Regions from separate parts of the Homo sapiens genome. Here region 2 is linked to region 1. The links come from fine-mapping of genetic effects on gene expression. A gene starts in region 1. The other region holds a variant in brackets. All regions are shown on one strand. Distances are from middle to middle.

The links. PIP is the estimated chance that this variant, and not a neighbour inherited with it, causes the effect.
Region 2: its variant is fine-mapped to the expression of ASPSCR1 in whole blood (TOPMed, PIP above 0.99).

The regions. Positions count from the first base shown.
Region 1 is chr17:81,974,335-81,982,645 of GRCh38, forward strand. It overlaps ASPSCR1 (ASPSCR1 tether for SLC2A4, UBX domain containing), which reads left to right and starts at 3,295. Exons shown (of 16, transcript NM_024083.4): 1 at 3,295-3,414; 2 at 4,850-4,905. The coding sequence starts at 3,313. LOC124904087 (a long non-coding RNA gene) reads left to right here. Exons shown (of 2, transcript XR_007065951.1): 2 at 1,777-2,001. It overlaps LOC105371939 (a long non-coding RNA gene), which reads right to left and starts at 3,151. Exons shown (of 2, transcript XR_933953.4): 1 at 3,034-3,151; 2 at 1,634-2,623. RefSeq lists enhancers at 1,907-2,680, 2,681-3,452 and a silencer at 2,931-3,790.
Region 2 is chr17:82,012,919-82,021,229 of GRCh38, forward strand. It overlaps ASPSCR1 (ASPSCR1 tether for SLC2A4, UBX domain containing), which reads left to right. Exons shown (of 16, transcript NM_024083.4): 13 at 3,558-3,609; 14 at 3,882-3,951; 15 at 4,023-4,195; 16 at 4,391-4,488. The coding sequence ends at 4,404. CENPX (centromere protein X) reads right to left here. Exons shown (of 5, transcript NM_001271006.2): 2 at 6,940-6,991; 3 at 6,723-6,776; 4 at 6,375-6,463; 5 at 5,785-6,301. The coding sequence ends at 6,287. Among named protein-coding and RNA genes, the nearest start is that of CENPX, 5.8 kb to the right of the region's middle. RefSeq lists enhancers at 2,079-2,800, 3,524-4,245, 8,215-8,311 and a silencer at 2,755-3,049. The variant A/G (reference allele first, on the strand shown) is at 4,021.

The DNA.
Region 1 (8,311 bases):
GCTAACCTTTGTATTTTTTGTAGAGCTGGGGTCTCACTATGTTGCCTAGGGTGGTCTCAAACTCCTAGGCTCAAATGATCCTCCTACTTTGGCCTCCCAAAGTGCTGGGATTATAGGTGTAAGCCACTGTGCCTGGCCAGAAAAAGTTTTTACATGTATATGGAGAGAGAGAAAGAGAATATGATAAAACAAATGGGGTGACATGTAAACACTGATTTATCTGGCTAAAAGATATACAGGAGGCTGGGCGTGGTGGCTCACACCTGTAATCCCAGCACTTTGGGAGGCTGAGGCGGGTGGATCACGAGGTCAGGAGATTGAGACCATCCTGGCTAACATGGTGAAACCCCATGTCTACTAAAAATACAAAAAATTAGCCGGGCATGGTGGCAGGTGCCTGTAGTCCCAGCTACTCGGGAGGCTGAGGCAGGAGAATGATGTGAACCCGGGAGGCGGAGCTTGCAGTGAGCCGAGATTGCACCACTGCACTCCAGCCTGGGCAACAGAGCGAGACTCCGTCTCAAAAAACAAAACAAAACAAAACAACAACTAGCTGGGTGTGGTGCTGCACACCTGTAGTCCCAGCTACTCGGGAGGCTGAGGCAGAAGAATCGCTTGAACCCGGGAGGCAGAGGTTGCAGTGAGCTGAGATTTCGCCACTGCACTCCAGCCTGGCGACAGAGGGAGACTCCATCTCCAAAAAAAAAAAAAAAAAAAAAAGATATACAGCAGGAATTCTTGCTTTTGCAAACTTTTCTTCTCTTTCTTCCTTCCTCCTCCCTCTTCTTCTTTCTTCTCCTTCTCCTTTTTTGAGACGGTATCGTACTACGTTGCTCGGGCTGGGGTGCAGTAGTTATTCATAGGCATGAATAGTGGTTCACTAAGGCTGGAACTTAAGTAATTCTCCTGCCTCGGCCACCGGAGTAGCTAAGACTACAGGTGTGAGCCACCTTGCTCGGCTAAGTTTGAAATAATATCAGGATAAAAGATCATCCCTCCTATCAAAAAAAGCATAGGAGCCAGCTTAAAGGAGGTCTCACTGGCCAAATTCGGACCAATTTGAGCATCAAAAAGAATGCTGACTGAATGAAAAAAATACATGAATTCATATTAATAAATATATATATTTCAAGATGGGGTTTCACTCTTGTCGCCCAGGCTGGAGTGCAATGGTGCGATCTTGGCTCGTTGCAACCTCCATCTCCCAGGTTCAAGTGATTCTCCTACCTCAGTGTCCCGAATAGCTGGGATTACAGGCACGCACCGCCATGCCCGGCTAATTTTTGTACTTTTTTTTTAAGTAGAGACAGGATTTCACCATGTTGGCCAAGATGGTCTCAATCTCTTGACCTTGTGATCTGCCCAACTCAGCCTCCCAAAGTGCTGGGATTACAGGCGTGAGCCACCGCGCCTGGCCATATTTAATTTTTTTTTTTTTTTTTTTTTTGAGACAGAGTCTTGCTCCGTCTCCCAGGCTGGAGTACAGTGGCGTGATCTCAGCTCACTGCGAGCTCTGCCTCCCGGATTCACGCCATTCTCCTGCCTCAGCCTCCCAAATATTTAATAACTTTTTAAAGAAGGGGAAGCTTGACCGAAAGTGACTATAAATGTAGAAGAAACAATAAACTTGGGAAGCCATGATTTTGCAGCTTTACGGTTTAACACTGAATCTACTCATTAACTGATGCTAAAACTGTTGGGCAAATGGTTATTGGGAAAACTTGATGCTTGTGGTCTCAGAGAATGACCTCACGCATGCCTTAATTACTCCACAAGGAGCCACGGACCTTGACCATGGAGGAATTCAGCAGACCCAAAGCTGACCAAGTGGTTCAACTTCACGTCCTCACTCATGGCCACGCTGATGTCCTGCACCTCCTGCTGACTTGTCACCTCCCTTCATCATTGCCCCAAACGTTTAACCAAGGATCCAGACTGTGGGACAGTCTAAGGAAAATAGGAACAGACTCTTCAAAAACGCCACTAAAGAATTAAAACCCACCAGGTGATGTGTGGCTCAGTAAGGTTCTGAGGTTGCACAGAGCATGGGACTGGCTGGCTGGATGGGAGGGCTATGGCTAGCCTGGGGCTTTCCCCAGGTTTCTCCAATGTACATAGATGTCCGTGTTTGTCAGCATACAGGTGTGTGTGGGTGACATGGATATGTCATCGACAGGAAGGCACAACAGCACCCATGCAGAGATGTCCTTAGACTCAGCAATGACTGCCGGGTGCGGTGGCTCACGTGTGTAATCCCAGCCCTGTGGGAGGATTGACTGATAACTGCACCAGTTCCCCCTTCCACAGGCTACTGGGCAGCTGAGCCCTAGCCAGGAGTCCGCAGAGACAGGCAGGCACATGGAGAGAGGAGTGCCAAGGCCCGGCTGAGCCATGGAGGTGGGGGGCGGGGCGGAACACGTGCGAGTGCTGTCCATGAGTGGCCCAGGTGCTGGGAGCTAAGCACATTCGACGGCTGCGAGTCAGGAGGGCAGCTCCTTCTGGAAGCCTGGAGCTGGTGAGGCCAGGTGCTTTCCCTGCTGCGGTGGCTGGCGATGGGAGTGTTTCCTGAGGCTGCCACCAAGCCCCTCCTCAGCATGGGTTGGTGCGGGAAGTCCTTGAGTGCCTGTGGGTCGGCAGGAGCTCCGGTGAGACTCAAGTTCGCTCACCCCACGGTTCTGAAACCGGTCTCCCGCCTTTCCTACCCTCAGGTTTAGGGACCGTCGCGGCAGCCCTAGGGCTGCCAGATTCTGCACTCCCATTTTAGGATGAAAGAAATCAGGTCTAGACTGAGGGCCACGAGTCCCAACACCCAGGGAGGATCCGTACAGGGGCGGGGGGACTGCCCCAAACCATAAGGTCAGGAGGTGGACGCTGACCACAGGGACAGGTGGGCAGGGAAGAGGCTCAGCTGCTGGAGTGGAGGAAGCCGGGAGGGTCGGGGGAGAGCAGGGCACCGAGCTGGGGACGTGTCAGGGACGAAGCGAGGGTGGGCGAGCGCGGACCGCTGGGACCCCGGGGCTCAGTGCCGCTCACCGGGGGTGACCGCGCGCCCAGCCCCGGCCCAGCCTGGCCCCGGCGAGCCCATCCAAGCCGCGCTTCCCGGAGGCAGAGGACGACCGCGCTTTCCGGGTCTGGCGCGGGCTTTGGCGGCCCAAGGGCGGGGCCGGGGCGCCGTGGGTGGGGAAAGGGCGGGGCCTGGCAGGACCCGGAAGTGCGCTGCGGCCCCGCCCCCTGGCCGCGTGGCTGCGCGTCCTGGCTGTTGCCGATAAAGTTGTTTGACGCCGGCCCGGCGGCGGGTCACGTGAGCGGAAAATGGCGGCCCCGGCAGGCGGCGGAGGCTCCGCGGTGTCGGTGCTGGCCCCGAACGGCCGGCGCCACACGGTGAAGGTGACGCCGAGCACCGTGCTGCTTCAGGTGCGGCCGCCCGCCCGGGGCGGACGGGTAGGCGGGCGGGGGGCGCTGCGCCGAGGCCCCGCCCATTGCGGTCGGCGTCCCGGTGTTCGGGGGCGGGGCCTCGGCGGCCAATGAGCGGCCTCCTGAGCGGCGGCCCCGCCCCCTGCTCGCCGTCACCTGCGCTTCCGCTGGGGTCCCGGGGGTCCCGGGGGTCCCGAGTGGGGGCGGGGCGGTGGCGAGCCTTCCCAGGGGTGAGGTAGAACGGCGCCGCGTGTCACCCGCATCGAGTACTCGGCGCCCGGCCGAGCCCAGCTCGCGAGGGCGCCGGGAAGAGGGAGGAGTGGAGCCCTAGACCCGCGTTCCCATTCCGGGGCGTCCCCCGGAGCGGGAGCCCGGGTTGCGCGGTGGCAGATGTCCCGGCCGTGGGGCCTGGAAGCGATTTTTGCCGAGTCACTCACTGCACTTTTACTTGGGCACCTTGTGACCGCGAATCAATTAAATGTAAAAGTATTGGCTGGGCGCGGTGGCTCACGCCTGTAAATCCCAGCACTGTGGGATGCCGAGGCGGGTGGATCACGAGGTCAAGAGATCAAGACCATCCTGGCTAAAACGGTGAAACCCCGTCTGTACTAAAAAAATACAAAAAAATTTAGCCGGGCGTGGTGGCGGGCGCCTGTAGTCCCAGCTACTCGGGAGGCTGAGGCAGGAGAATGGCGTGAACCTGGGAGGCAGAGCTTGCAGTGAGCCGAGATCGCGCTACTGCACTCCAGCCTGGGAGACAGAGCGAGACTCCATATCAAAAAAAAAAAAAAAAAGTATTTATTGAGCCTCTGCTGCGTGGGGGACCGTGAGGATCCGAAGGTGCACACGACTCGGAGTTTGCGGGAGCAGCCCACGGCGTGGGGTCCCCAGGCCTGGGCAGGTGGAGGGCGCAGCCAGGAGGCTGTTGGTGCCAGGCGTGCAGAGTGCGGAAGTGGGGCGCTCCCGCAGAGGCTGCGCGGGACCCCTTGGTGCAAGGCCACGGCTTTGGCTTTTTATGGAGAAGAGGGGCGGAGGCGGTGCAGGCAGTGGCAGCAGGTGCACAGAACCGTGCCAGAGCCAGGGGGTAGCTTGTGCTAGGCAAGTTTAAGGCAGGTTGCAGAACTACAGGGTTTGAAGGAGAGCCCAGGGTGTGTGCCAGGAAGATGCCCGTGTTGCTGTACTGCAGGGGAACTCTGAGTGGAGCTTTCCTACAAAACTGAGGGGATGGTGAAGAAGGGAGGGAGAGTGGACAGGATTTGCAGGTGAGAGCCTGCATTTGTTGCGGGGACCGTCCATAGTGTGGTCTTGTGCTTGGCTTTGCCTGGGCAGAGCCACCTGGCTCACCAGGAAGCTGAATGCCCTTGGCTGACCTGGCCCACTGCGCCCGCCAGCCCTGCACACTCAGCAGTTCACCATCCTTTCATCTCACCCCCAGGTTCTGGAGGACACGTGCCGGCGGCAGGACTTCAACCCCTGTGAATATGATCTGAAGTGAGTTTGCTCCAGCTCAGCAGCAGGGTCTGAGTATATCTGTGCCCCTGCCCCCTGAACATACTGGCTCTCACTTGGAAAAGCCCCCAGGTGGTTTTAAACAGTCATATATTCCCTCCCAACTCTGGAGACCCAAGGCCTTGGCAGGGCCACACTCTCTCCAAATGCCCTAAGGGAGAATCCCTCCTGCCTCTTCCAGCTTCTCATGGCTCCAAGCGTTCTGTGGCTTGTGGCCGCATTGCTCTCTGCCTCCGATTTCTTGTGGCCTTTTCCTGTTTTCTCTGTGTCTCAGGAAGACCCTTGTCATTGGATTTAGGGTCCACTTGGATAATCTAGAACGATTTATCATTACATCTTCAAAGACCAGGATCCCTAGTAAGATGTTCAGAGGTCCTGGGGGTGAGGACATTGACCCATCTTTTTTGGGGGGGCCACCATTCAACCCCCTGTAGGTTTTATTGCATTGAGTTGCATAAGTTCCCAGTGGGGCTCTGAGGGGAAAGAGCTGGCCGTGGAGAAATAGGATGCCTTGAAAACTGCAGGTGGATCCCTGCAGTCTCACAGCCCCTGGAATTACACGTACGCTTCTGTGTGGGGATATTGTTCCCAAGAGAGGGCTTCTGCCAGACTCTCAAGGAGTCTGAGACAGCAGAAGGGTCAGAGCCCTCATATGGATAGGATGTGCGTGTCTATCCCACACGCGAAGCTTTTCACTTTAAAGTCCTGTTTTCTGGTGTTTTTTTTGTTTTGTTTTGTTTTTGAGACAGGGTTTCACTCTTGTCGCCCAGGCTGGAGTGCAGTGGCACGGTCTTGGCTCACTGCAACCTCCACCTCCTAGGTTCAAGTGATTCTCCTGCCTCAGCCTCCCGAGTAGCTGAGATTAGAGGTGCTCACCAACACACCCAGCTAATTTTTATATTTTTAGTAGAGATGGGGTTTCACCACATTGGCCAGGACGGTCTAGAACTCCTGACCTTGTGATCCGCCTGCCTTGGCCTCCCAAAGTACTGGGATTACAGAGATGAGTCACCATGCCTGCCCTTGAAGACCTGTTTTTACAGTACTGTTGTCCTAACACTGGGGGCAGAGGGCAGGAGCTTGCCCTCCTGGCATTGCCCACCCTGCCTTACGAGGCTCTCCTGGGAGGAGTTTCTTAGGGGTGATACCTGCCAAGTCATTCCAGTCTTCTACCTTGTGTCTGGACCACGTGAGAATCCCAGGACCTGTGCTCTGAATGCCAGGTGGTCTTGGGCTTTCTGCCCCAGACCTTCACACCATCCTTCTCCAGTCTCTCTTGTCAACTGAAGAATGCGGTTCATATGTTTGGAAAGGAGGGCTTTATTTCTCATAACCGGTTGCAGCTTGCAGGGTGGCCATTCTAACAGGCTGGGAAGTGTAGCCTCCAGCCAGAAGCTGGAAACAGACACTTCAAGAGAGGGAAGAATAAGACAGGGATTTACACCGAATGGGGTGGCTGATACAGACGTACTTAATACGCTGTAGGAGGATCATGAGTATTCATGAAAGGAGAACTGTGCACACAGTTGAGCTTCCTGCCTCTTCACGGGTCCTATGTGCAAAAAATGGCAGTGCCAGCATGACCTGAGGGTGGAATTTTTGGCCTCTGAAGTCAGAGGTGAAGCAGGCTGGGTGAAGTGGCTCATGCCTGTAATCCTAGCACTTTGGGTGCCCGAGGCGGAGGATTGCCTGAGCCCAGGAATTCGAGATCAGCCTGGGGAACATAGTGAGACCCTGTCTCTACAAAAAAAGTAAATAAGTAAATAAATAAATAAATGGCAAATCAGAGGACATGAAGACTGTGCCACGAAAACCCTGACTGTGCCAGAACCACTCCATGGTTGGTGGTTTCTTATCAGGAAATACCTGTGGGTTGTTTTGAAGAAACCGCAAGAGAGAAGGGCCTGGCGGGAGGTTGGCTGATGTCAGATACCAGCCCAGGGGTCTTTGGAAAGGGCTGCTTTCTGTTTATCCCTTAGGGAAGAGAGCCTGCAGATGTGTCTGATCTCCCACCCAGCCATGGCCAGGAACTCAGCTTTCAAGGTTTCTGGGGTCCCCTGGGCCAAGAGGAGGCTGGTTCAGTTGGTTGGGGGGGGCTTAGGGTTTCATTTTTATTTCTTTTTTATTTTATTATTTTTTGAGGTGGAGTCTCGCTCTGTCACACAGGCTGTAGTACAGTGGCGCTATCTCGGCTCACTGCAACCTCTGTCTCCCAGGTTCAAGTGATTCTTCTGCCTCAGCCTCCCGAGTAGCTGGGATTACAGGCGTGCGCCATCATGCCCAGCTAATTTTTGTATTTTTAGTAGGGACGGGGTTTCACCATGTTGGTCATGCTGGTCTTCAAGTCCTGACCTCAGGTGATCTGCCCGCCTTGGTCTTCCAAAGTGTTGGGATTACAGGCATGAGTCACTGTGCCTGGCCATTTTTCTGAAACAGAGTCTTGCTCTGTCACCTAGGCTGGAGGGCAGTGGCATGATCTCAGCTCACCGCAACCTCTGCCTCCCGGGTTCAAGCGATTATTGTGCCTCAGCGTCTTGAGTAGCTGGAATTACAGGCACGTGCCACGCCTGGCTAATTTTTGTATTTTTAGTAGTGACGGGGTTTCACCATGTGGACCAGGCTGGTCTCAAACTCCTGACCTCAAGTGATCCGCCCGTCTTGGCCTCCCAAAGTGCTGGGATGATAGGCGTGAGCCACTGCACCTGGCCTCATTTTTCTTTCTTTTTTTTGAGACGGAGTCTCGCTCTGTCGCCCAGGCTGGAGTGCAATGGCGCGATCTTGGCACACTGCAACCTCCGCCTCCCGGGTTGAAGCACTCCTCCCACTTCAGCCTCCCGAGTAGCTGGGACTACAGGCCTGTGCCACCATGCCTGGCTAATTTTTGTATTTTTAGTAGAGACGGAGTTTCACCACATTGGCCAGACTGCTCTCAAACTCCTGACCTCAAGTGATCTGCCCGTCTGGGCCTCCCAAATTGCTGGGATTACAGGCATGAGCCACCGCGCCCAGCGCATTGTTACTTCTCAGTGTTCACCTGCCCGTGGTCTGTGTGGTGGTGTCTGGTGGGAACCAGTGAGTGCGATTTTGAGGCAGGTCCTGCAATACCATAGCCATGTTTTCAGGTGCCCTTTTCCTCTGCTAATGGTACCACTTGCTTACAAAGTGCAGCCGGTGCAGAGGAATGCAGCCCCAGGCGTGAACAGTGCCCTCCGCTCCAAGGTTCCCAGCCTGCCTGCCCTCGGGATCCCCCGATCTGCTATCCTGTCTTGACGTAGACATTTCATGTGGCAATTTCCAGACTCACTTTTCTGGCCAGTGTTGATATAGCAAAGTTTGTTCTCTCTTAATTCTTCCAGATGCCCCTGGGCTGTCTGAACTCTCTTCACTA
Region 2 (8,311 bases), 39 kb after region 1:
GCTGCCTGGGGCCTTCCGAAGCCCTCTGGCCTAATGGTTTCCTCTTCAAAGCCTCTTCAGATATTTTAATTAGCCACAGAGGCGGGTTTTTTTTTAAGTGGCCACAGGCCTCTACAGAGGCCTGGGTTGGAGGTGAGAAGCTTGCTCACTGCCTGGGGCTGCAGCCGCTTACTGAGCTGGGGCAAGAAGGCTGGCAGCTGCCAGGGGTGATCAGGAGCAGGACTGAGCGGGATTCCCTGCAGCGGAGGCAGGGGAGGGGTGAGACAGTCCCCTCTCAGCCCCCGAGCTGCCGGGCGGACTCCGGGCCTCCTTCCTCCGTCTCCATCCCCTCCCTTGCTGGCCAGCCAGTTGATAAACATTGAATTTGGAAGATGCCTTGGGATGGAGGAGGACCAGTGCCCAGGCCTGCAGCCCACCCTCCCGCTGGGAGGCCCCTGAGAGCACTGGGGTGCTGCTGCCCTGTTTCTGGGGACGCTTGGCTTCCCTACCAGCCACCGTCTCCTGCCCTCCATCAGCTCGGCTCTAGCCTCGGGGCCTCTCGGGGTGGTGTCCCCGGTGACGTGCCTGCCTGCCTGCCTGCCGTCAGAGAGCTGGCGGGGCTGAGGGAAGGAAGCCTGCCTCCCTGGCAGGCAAGCAGGCGGCGGGCGCGGAAGCACCAGCTTTCACGTCTCTGGCAGAGCCCCACTCCGGCTGCCTGCTGCCTGGGGGATGTCCAGGGGCCGGCCCCCGGCTTCCGAGAGGGACAGCGTGCGTGGGTGTGGGGGCTCCGGTAGCCCGGCAGCCCTCTGTGGCCCTGGCCCAGGAGAGTGCAGGTTTTCTGGGAGGGCTGGGAGGAGGCGGCCAGGAGTGAGGACAGGGAATTGTGAGCAGTGTGGGGGCACCACTGTGGGGAACAAAGCCCCCCGCCCCTGCCTGAAACCTGCGTCCTGGCCCTGGGCATCAGGGCTGGCCCTGCCCTGGTGTCCTCACACAGTCACTTCTGTGTGCGGTCCGCGTCCTCAGGTCATGAGGAAGGTCACCCTGGGCTAGGCCCACCTTTGATGTCACGGTCACCTCACTTATCTCTTCAAAGGCTCTGCTGTTTGGGCTTCCTTCCATTGGCTTTGGCAGGGCAAGCCTGGCTCCTAACACCCTCCGTTTGTTGGAGCTCTCAGGCTGCCTCTGGGGACCGTCTGCCAGGACACAGGCCACCCTTGCTGCCTGGTTCCCCACTCCCCAAGCCACTCACCTGGCAGGGCGTGACTGGCACTTCTGGCCTGAGTGCCTGCTGGGCGCCCGCCCCTAGCCAGTTCTGTCGTCCTTCCTTTCCACCCAGGACAGCCCCGTCCTGCACTGCCGTGTCGCCCACTGCCGGGGCCTCTCTGGGACCAACAGGCCCCCTTCCTTCCACCCACCAGGCCCTACCCCACCTGGACCCTCTGAAATGTTCCTCGTTGACAAATGGTCTTGCAGAAGGCAGGATGGCTCCTGCAGCCCCCACTCCCGCTCTGTGGGTGGATGCCCCGTCTCTCCCTGCCCAGGCACCGTGGTGCCTTCTCTCTCCCGGGCACCGTGGTGCCACCTCCCTCCCAGACACCATGATGCTGCCTCCCTCCCGGGCTCTGTGGTGCCATCTCCCTGCCGAGGCACTGTGGTGCCGCCTTCCTCCCGGGCACGGTGGTGCCGCCTCCCTCCCAGGCGCTGTGGTGCCGCCTCCCTCCCGGGCGTCTTGAGCTGCAAGGGCTCCTCTCTTGGCTTCGTTCCCCGGAGGGTGGTGCTGTTCTCGTTGGAGGGGGCGGCCAGGCGCTGGGCCACGTGTGCATGCAGCCCCTACAGAGTTGCTGCCCCGTGGGGGTTGACGTGGGCCTCCTTTCGGAAGCTCTTCCTGGCAACACTGAGTGGGGCAAGGGGTTGGCAGCAGAGAGGCGGCTGGATTTGGGGCCCCAGTGTCCTGGGCGGCAGCTAGGGAGGGGCCGGCTCCAGGCCCTCAGGCTGTGTCAGGGCAGGGCGGGCACCCCCACTTCTCCCTGTCAGCCGAGGGAGCCAGGCAGGGGCAGCCTGAGACATCCTGGGACAGTGCTGGTGGGGAGAGGCCCCTCAGCCTGTGCCTCCCTCAAAGGCCCTTCCCGGGCCCTGCTCTGGCTGGGGGGACGGTGTGACCCACTTTCCCTTTCCAGCCCCAGCTTGGTGACCGGGTGGCTCCATTCACCCTGGGTCCCTCGCTGAAACGGTGCCTGGGACCAGAGCAGAGAACACGCTTGCCAGTGGTAGGAGATGGAGGCGACGTGGACTCTGGGAGGCTTCTTTTTTGGGGTCCATCCAGAGGCCGAGCCTCTCCAAGCACTGGTCAGCCTCCATGCCACCCAGTCTGCCGACCCTCCTCTCCACCATCCCCTCGTCCGAGCAGTGGCGATCCCTCCCGAGTCAAGGCTGGGCACAAGCACGTGGGGACAGGCCGGGTAGGCTGCCTGGCTCAGTGCTCCCTGCACAGAGGCGCAGACAGGGAGCCCAGGTGCCCCAGGCCTGGCTGCCAAGCCTACTTCCCTCTCCTGGTGTTCCCGAGTCCTGCCCGCCCCTTTCTGTGCGTCCCGTGGGGCAGTGCTGGTTGGGGGTCCTGGCCTGTGGGGGCTATGATGAGAACCAGGTGCCTCTCTGCATCGGTGGCCTCTGAGGGAGCCCTCTCGCCCGGCAGCAGGTGGGATGCAGATGGGGCTGGCCAGGGCTCCTGTGCCCACAGCAGCCTCTGGGCAGTGTCCCCTGGGCTTCTGTGAGCAGCCGCAGCCTGGGTGTGAATCTTGGAGGCCCGGTGGTGGCGGAGCATGCTCTCCATCTGGGAGAGGCTGAGACCATGGCAGCTCCTGGCGCTGTCCTCCCCGTGCCCCCTTCCTGGCTCCCCAGCTTCCGGCGCCTCTCCAGGGCCACTCGGGCAGCCCCTGCCCACCCCACAGGCCCTTCTCTGCTCACAAGGCTTTGATCCCAGGCGGCACAATTGGGTTTTCAAAGCATTCACGGCCCTTGTTTGTGTCCCTGGGCCCCCGGCTGGAGGCTGAGGTTTCGGCGTTCCTGGGCCTGGCCTTTGAAGCTTCCTCTTATTAATCTTTTAACATCCCCCAGCCCCACTCCCACCCCCAGCCTGTGGCCCTGAGCAGCCTGGAGCCGGGAGGGGGAATCTGGAGCTGGGAGGGGGATACCCCAGCCTGGCAGCTGCACCCCTCCACGGTGGTCCCGGCGCATCCGCCAGGACCCGCCACGCCTGGCCCCACCTTCCTCGGGTGCAGAGGCCAGAGGAGGGAGGACGGTGATGCTGCATGGCTTGAGGACCCTCGAGGCCCCAGCCTTCAGCTGGCTTGGGGCTTGGGGTGGTCCCATGGAGGGCGCTGGTCCCAGGACGCCCTGGCCTTGCTTACAGGGGTAGGGCTGGTGTCAGACAGGAAGCTGGGCGATGGGCTCATGGGGGCCGGGCAGGCAGAGCCTGTCTGAGGGTGGAGCTGGGGCCTGGCCCTGGGGGTGTAGCTGCCTTCACAGCAGGGGGGTGCTCTGCCCACACCCGGCCCCTGAGCCCCCCGCCCTCCCTGCAGGCGAACCTCTTCCCGGCCGCTCTGGTGCACTTGGGAGCCGAGGAGCCGGCAGGTGAGTGTCAGTGGTTGGGGCCAGTGTCGGAGTCCAGCCAGCCTGTCCCTGGACCTCAGAGCCAGCTGCCCGGGAGGGCGTTCGGTCTGGGGCCTCCTTTGGGTCTGAGAGGGAGATCTGCGGCCCCCAGTAACCACCTCCCCGAGAGAGGACTGGGACAGCCACCTGCTGGCCACCCCCCTCCCAGAGCTGAGTGCTGGTGGGCAGATGCTGGGTGGATGGTGAGTGGACCCCTCCTCAGAGGCTCAGGGTGAGCTTGGGCCTCCCTGCAGGTGTCTACCTGGAGCCTGGCCTGCTGGAGCATGCCATCTCCCCATCTGCGGCCGATGTGCTGGTGGCCAGGTAAGTGCCGGTGGGTCTGGGGGCACCTCCCGTGGCGGCACTCACCACTCTGTGTCTTCGCCTCCCCAC[A/G]GGTACATGTCCAGGGCCGCCGGGTCCCCTTCCCCATTGCCAGCCCCTGACCCTGCACCTAAGTCTGAGCCAGCTGCTGAGGAGGGGGCGCTGGTCCCCCCTGAGCCCATCCCAGGGACGGCCCAGCCCGTGAAGAGGAGCCTGGGCAAGGTGCCCAAGTGGCTGAAGCTGCCGGGTACTGCGGCTGGGTGGAAGGTGGGGTGCTGTGGCCGGGTGGAGGGCGGGGGTCCGGGTGCTGTGGCAGGGTCAGTGGGCTGGGGGGCTAGGTGCTGTGGCCGGCAGGGCCGAGTGCTTCAGCCGGGCTGGTGGGCGGGTGGCCGGGTGGTGAGAGCCCGGGGTGTGTGGTCACCCTGATGTGTCTGCACTACAGCCAGCAAGAGGTGAGAGCTGCCAGCCTGAGGTGCCCACTCCGCCAGCCACAGGACCACCTCCTCTGCCAGCAGGAATAAAGACTTGTGCATCCCTCAACGCCTTCCTGTCATGCTTCCTCCAGAAAAGGGCCCCCGTCGTCTGCCCTGGCTCAGCTGGACCGCAGTGTCCAGGCCTGAGAGCCTGGTGGACCATGGTGTGGGCCCCTGAGGAGCCTGGTGGACCGTGGTGTGCATCCTGAACCCGCGTGGGTCTCCTCTTCGTTTTTAACCTAACAGTTATTTACACTTCCTCCAAGGAGAACAGAAGTGCTTGAGGAAAGTCTTTTGGGGGAAATCACCTGCAACCCAGGAGCCAAGCCCTGGGCCAGGAGCTGGGGGAGGAGCTAGTAGGTCACCCCACATCCGTAGGGCAGGGCCTGGCCTCAGGCCTCCTGCTGCCCCCGAGCGGGCTATAGTGCTGGGTTCTGGCCCTGGTCCACCCTGCAGCCAGCCTCCCCAGCAAGTCTGATGACTTCTACAGGCTCCCAGGGCTTTCAAACTGACCTACTGAGGTGGGCAGGGCGGGGAAGGGGTGGATCCCAGCAGCCCTGCCTGCCCGGGGCCACTGGGGCTACATCGAGGATGAAGAGGCTCGCCTCAAAGTTGTCTTCGGGCACCAGGGCAGGAGAGAGGCTGGGTCGCCTCCGATGGTTCCCAGGGGCAGCTTTTGTGCTTCCCACCCTGGGGCCTGACTCCCTACCCTTTCCCCTCCCTGCACGGGGCTCCAGGATGGCGCTCAGCTGAGAGCCCCTGGGGTGCTTCCAGTCCTGGGCTCTGACAAGAGAGAGAACGTGAGGTGGGCTGGAGGGGAAGTGGTCCAAGGCCCTGCCCGCTTCCCAAGCGTTGGCACAAGTGGGGCTTATGCCAGAGGCCCCTGAGAGTCAGAGGGCAGCCAGACCTGGGTGGGGCATCCAGACAGGTCCCACAGCCCTGCGTCTCCAAGGGTGGGCAGGGGGCGTGGCCCGAGGGGGCTGACCTGCACCTCTCTGGCACTGCTTGGGAAAAGAGGAGGCCTTCATTTCAGCAGGGCCTTGGGCCAGGGTCCCTCTCACCCTGTGCATCCTGGTCCTGCCTGTGACCACAGGAACATTCGTGGAAGCCACTGCCCACTGGTGGCAGCCCCCGTGGCTGCCCCAACCCCTGGGGTAGGAATAACATTTCCCAGGCAGGTGGCCACATGTACGTGGTCCGGGCTCCACAGCGCCTGGGGGTGGGGCCGAGGCACTCGCACACATGCTGTTTGTTAGTGCATCCTCCTGGCGCTTTGCTTTCTTACCAGGAGTGGAAGGGCACACACGGGAAGTGCAGCTTTGAAGCAGTTTGACTTTGGTGATTAATGGCAAGAAAGCCAAGCTGGGAGAGACAGTTTTGATTTATTGATGTTGCTTTGTGAGAACAAATTTATAGCCTGGGGAAGCATCTTCCAAGGGGAATATCGCATGGCTGGAAAGGTCACACGCCAGCTTTGATGTCGGGTGGCAGGAATGTGGGCAGGAGGCAGCGCTGCCAGCTGCTGTTTGTCAAACACACAGGCTACCTGCTGGCCAGGCCTTTCCCAGCACCTGCCTGTAGGACCCCGGGTGGCATGCACACTATTGTCCCAGGGAGGAGAGGCAGGGACTCCCCAGGTGCTGCCCCTTCCCACACCAGTGTCCCCACTGGACACTCCAAGGCCCGCAGTGCACTGCAGTCCTGCCCCTTCTGCACAGGCTGGAGACTCCCAGAGATCTTGTTTGAATCAACTCCAAATCCTTCAGGTCCTTCCCTGCCTCTTATCAGAGGCCGCTGGAAACACAAGGCCTGCTTCTGTGGACCAGGGGCTCCTCTGGGGGTGGCCTCAGCCACGGCTGAGATCCCTAGAAGTCCAGGAGCTGTGGGGAAGAGAAGCACTTAGGGCCAGCCAGCCGGGCACCCCCACTTGCGCCCCGACCCACGCTCACGCACCAGCTGCGGAAGCACCTTCTCCAGCTGGTCCACGTCCACACGGAGCGCGTCTTCTGCCTGGGCCTGCCGCACGCCGCGGACTGCTGCTTCTGCGGTGAGAAACGCGAGAGGTGGGGGATGCTGGGGGGATCTTAAACCCGAGCCCAGTGAGGGCCTCAGCCTGGGCCGGTGCCCCCCCCAACACCCACGGGCAGCCCCCAGAACCAGGCCACAGCACCTGACAAACAGGCTCAGGAGACCCAAGTTTAGGCCCTTGTGGGAAACGGGAAAACACGTCTTGGTTTTCCCGCTGGAAAAACGCAAAATTCCGGATGCTGTGCCCGGAGGGAGCGTGGGCCCTGGGCTCACCCACAACGAAGACCTTCAGCAACTCCACCATGAGCTGCAGCGCGTCCCCGCTCACTGCAAGGCAGGGGGAGGTTATGCGGGACCCTCACCCACCGCTCTGGCTGGGTGCTCCAGACATACCCCCGCCCTCCCGAGGCCTTGGCCCTGCAGAGTTGCAGGAAAGGGTCCCTGAGGACAGACACGGGGACCCACCTCCCGCCCGCACCCCCACCCGCACCTTTGGTCTTGTCATCCTTGAAGTGCAGGTGCAGCAGCCTGCTCACCAGCTCCTAGAAGGGAGGGGGGTGTCAGCGCCACGCCCCGCCCTCCCCCCCGCACCCCCCAGGGTGGTGACCATTCTGGTGACAGTGGCTGTGACTTCTGGCTGGAGACGCCCTCTGTGCCTGAGCCTCTCCCAGGGCAGGGGACAAGGGCCAGCCTAGTGCTTCGGGTGGCAGAAGCTGAAGCAGATGCGTGGGCAGCTCCACTAGGGGGCGCCAGGGCCCTGCACAGGGTCTGGGCTGGGAGCCTCCCTACGGCGTGAGTGGTCGCAGACACGGGAGCAGGCCCCGCTGCTGGGGCTCCAGGGAGAGAGTGGAGAAAGGCCTCGTCGAGTCCGGCCTAATCTTGCACTCCCATCCCCGGCAGAGGGCCATGGCTCTGCTCTCCTTGTGGGGAGGCAGGGAAGGCAGAGCCCGGGTTGGGTCTGGAGGCTGGAGGTGGCTGCTCTGCAGGTGGGCTGGCCTGAGGGAGTGCCACCAGTAGGGCCTTCCTTGTGCCAACTCTGTTCTGGGTGCTGGGTCAGCTCCGCCCGTCTTGCCCTGGTGCTCATGATCCTGCAGGAGGTGCTGGTGTCCTGGGAGCGCAGAGCGGGGCTGCGCCAGCGTGGTCCACAGGCTGGAGTGAGGGGTGGGCCAGACGCTGAGGGCCCAGGGCATGATGAGCTCTCCGTGTCTCCATGGCAGGAAACTGGGAGTCCTCTCTAGGTTTTTGTGGAAAGCAGCACTGGCGTTGGAAAGGACCACTCTGGCTGCCATGCCCGGGGTGGGGGGAAGGGAGGGGGCTGCAGAGCCAGGGCCTTTCTGCCTTTCTGATGGATGGAGGACGGGGACAAGGGAGGAGTCTACGCCAAGACCCCAAAAGGACGGCACTGCTCTGAGGAGATGGGGGGCCGTGGGCAAGTGCATTTTGGAGCTAGGACACAGGAGATCAGTTTGGGATGCGTTGTGTGTGAACACAGGAGTGGTGGGTGGCAGCTGCAGTGGTGGCGGCCGAGACTCAGGAGGGCAGCCCTGGGTGGCTGGTGGAGCCATGAGACTCAGTGAGGTGGCCCAGGCCAGGCACCGGCCCACAGCCGCCGGGAAAGGAGCCAGCACGGAGAGTCCAGGACTGGGGGTGGGGGCAGTGGGCACCCAGGAGCCCAGAAACAGGCCACTAAAAGGGCAGGTGGGTGAACTACCAGCCAGGCCACCAGCATCGGCCACAGGGAGGTCACAGCACCTCACCCAGAGCAGTCCAGCAGGTGACAAGCAGAGCATGGACGGGTGAAGCCCTAAGATGCAGATGGTGAAGAATGTTCCCCAGCAGCGGGCAGCAGGGTCCAGCATCCC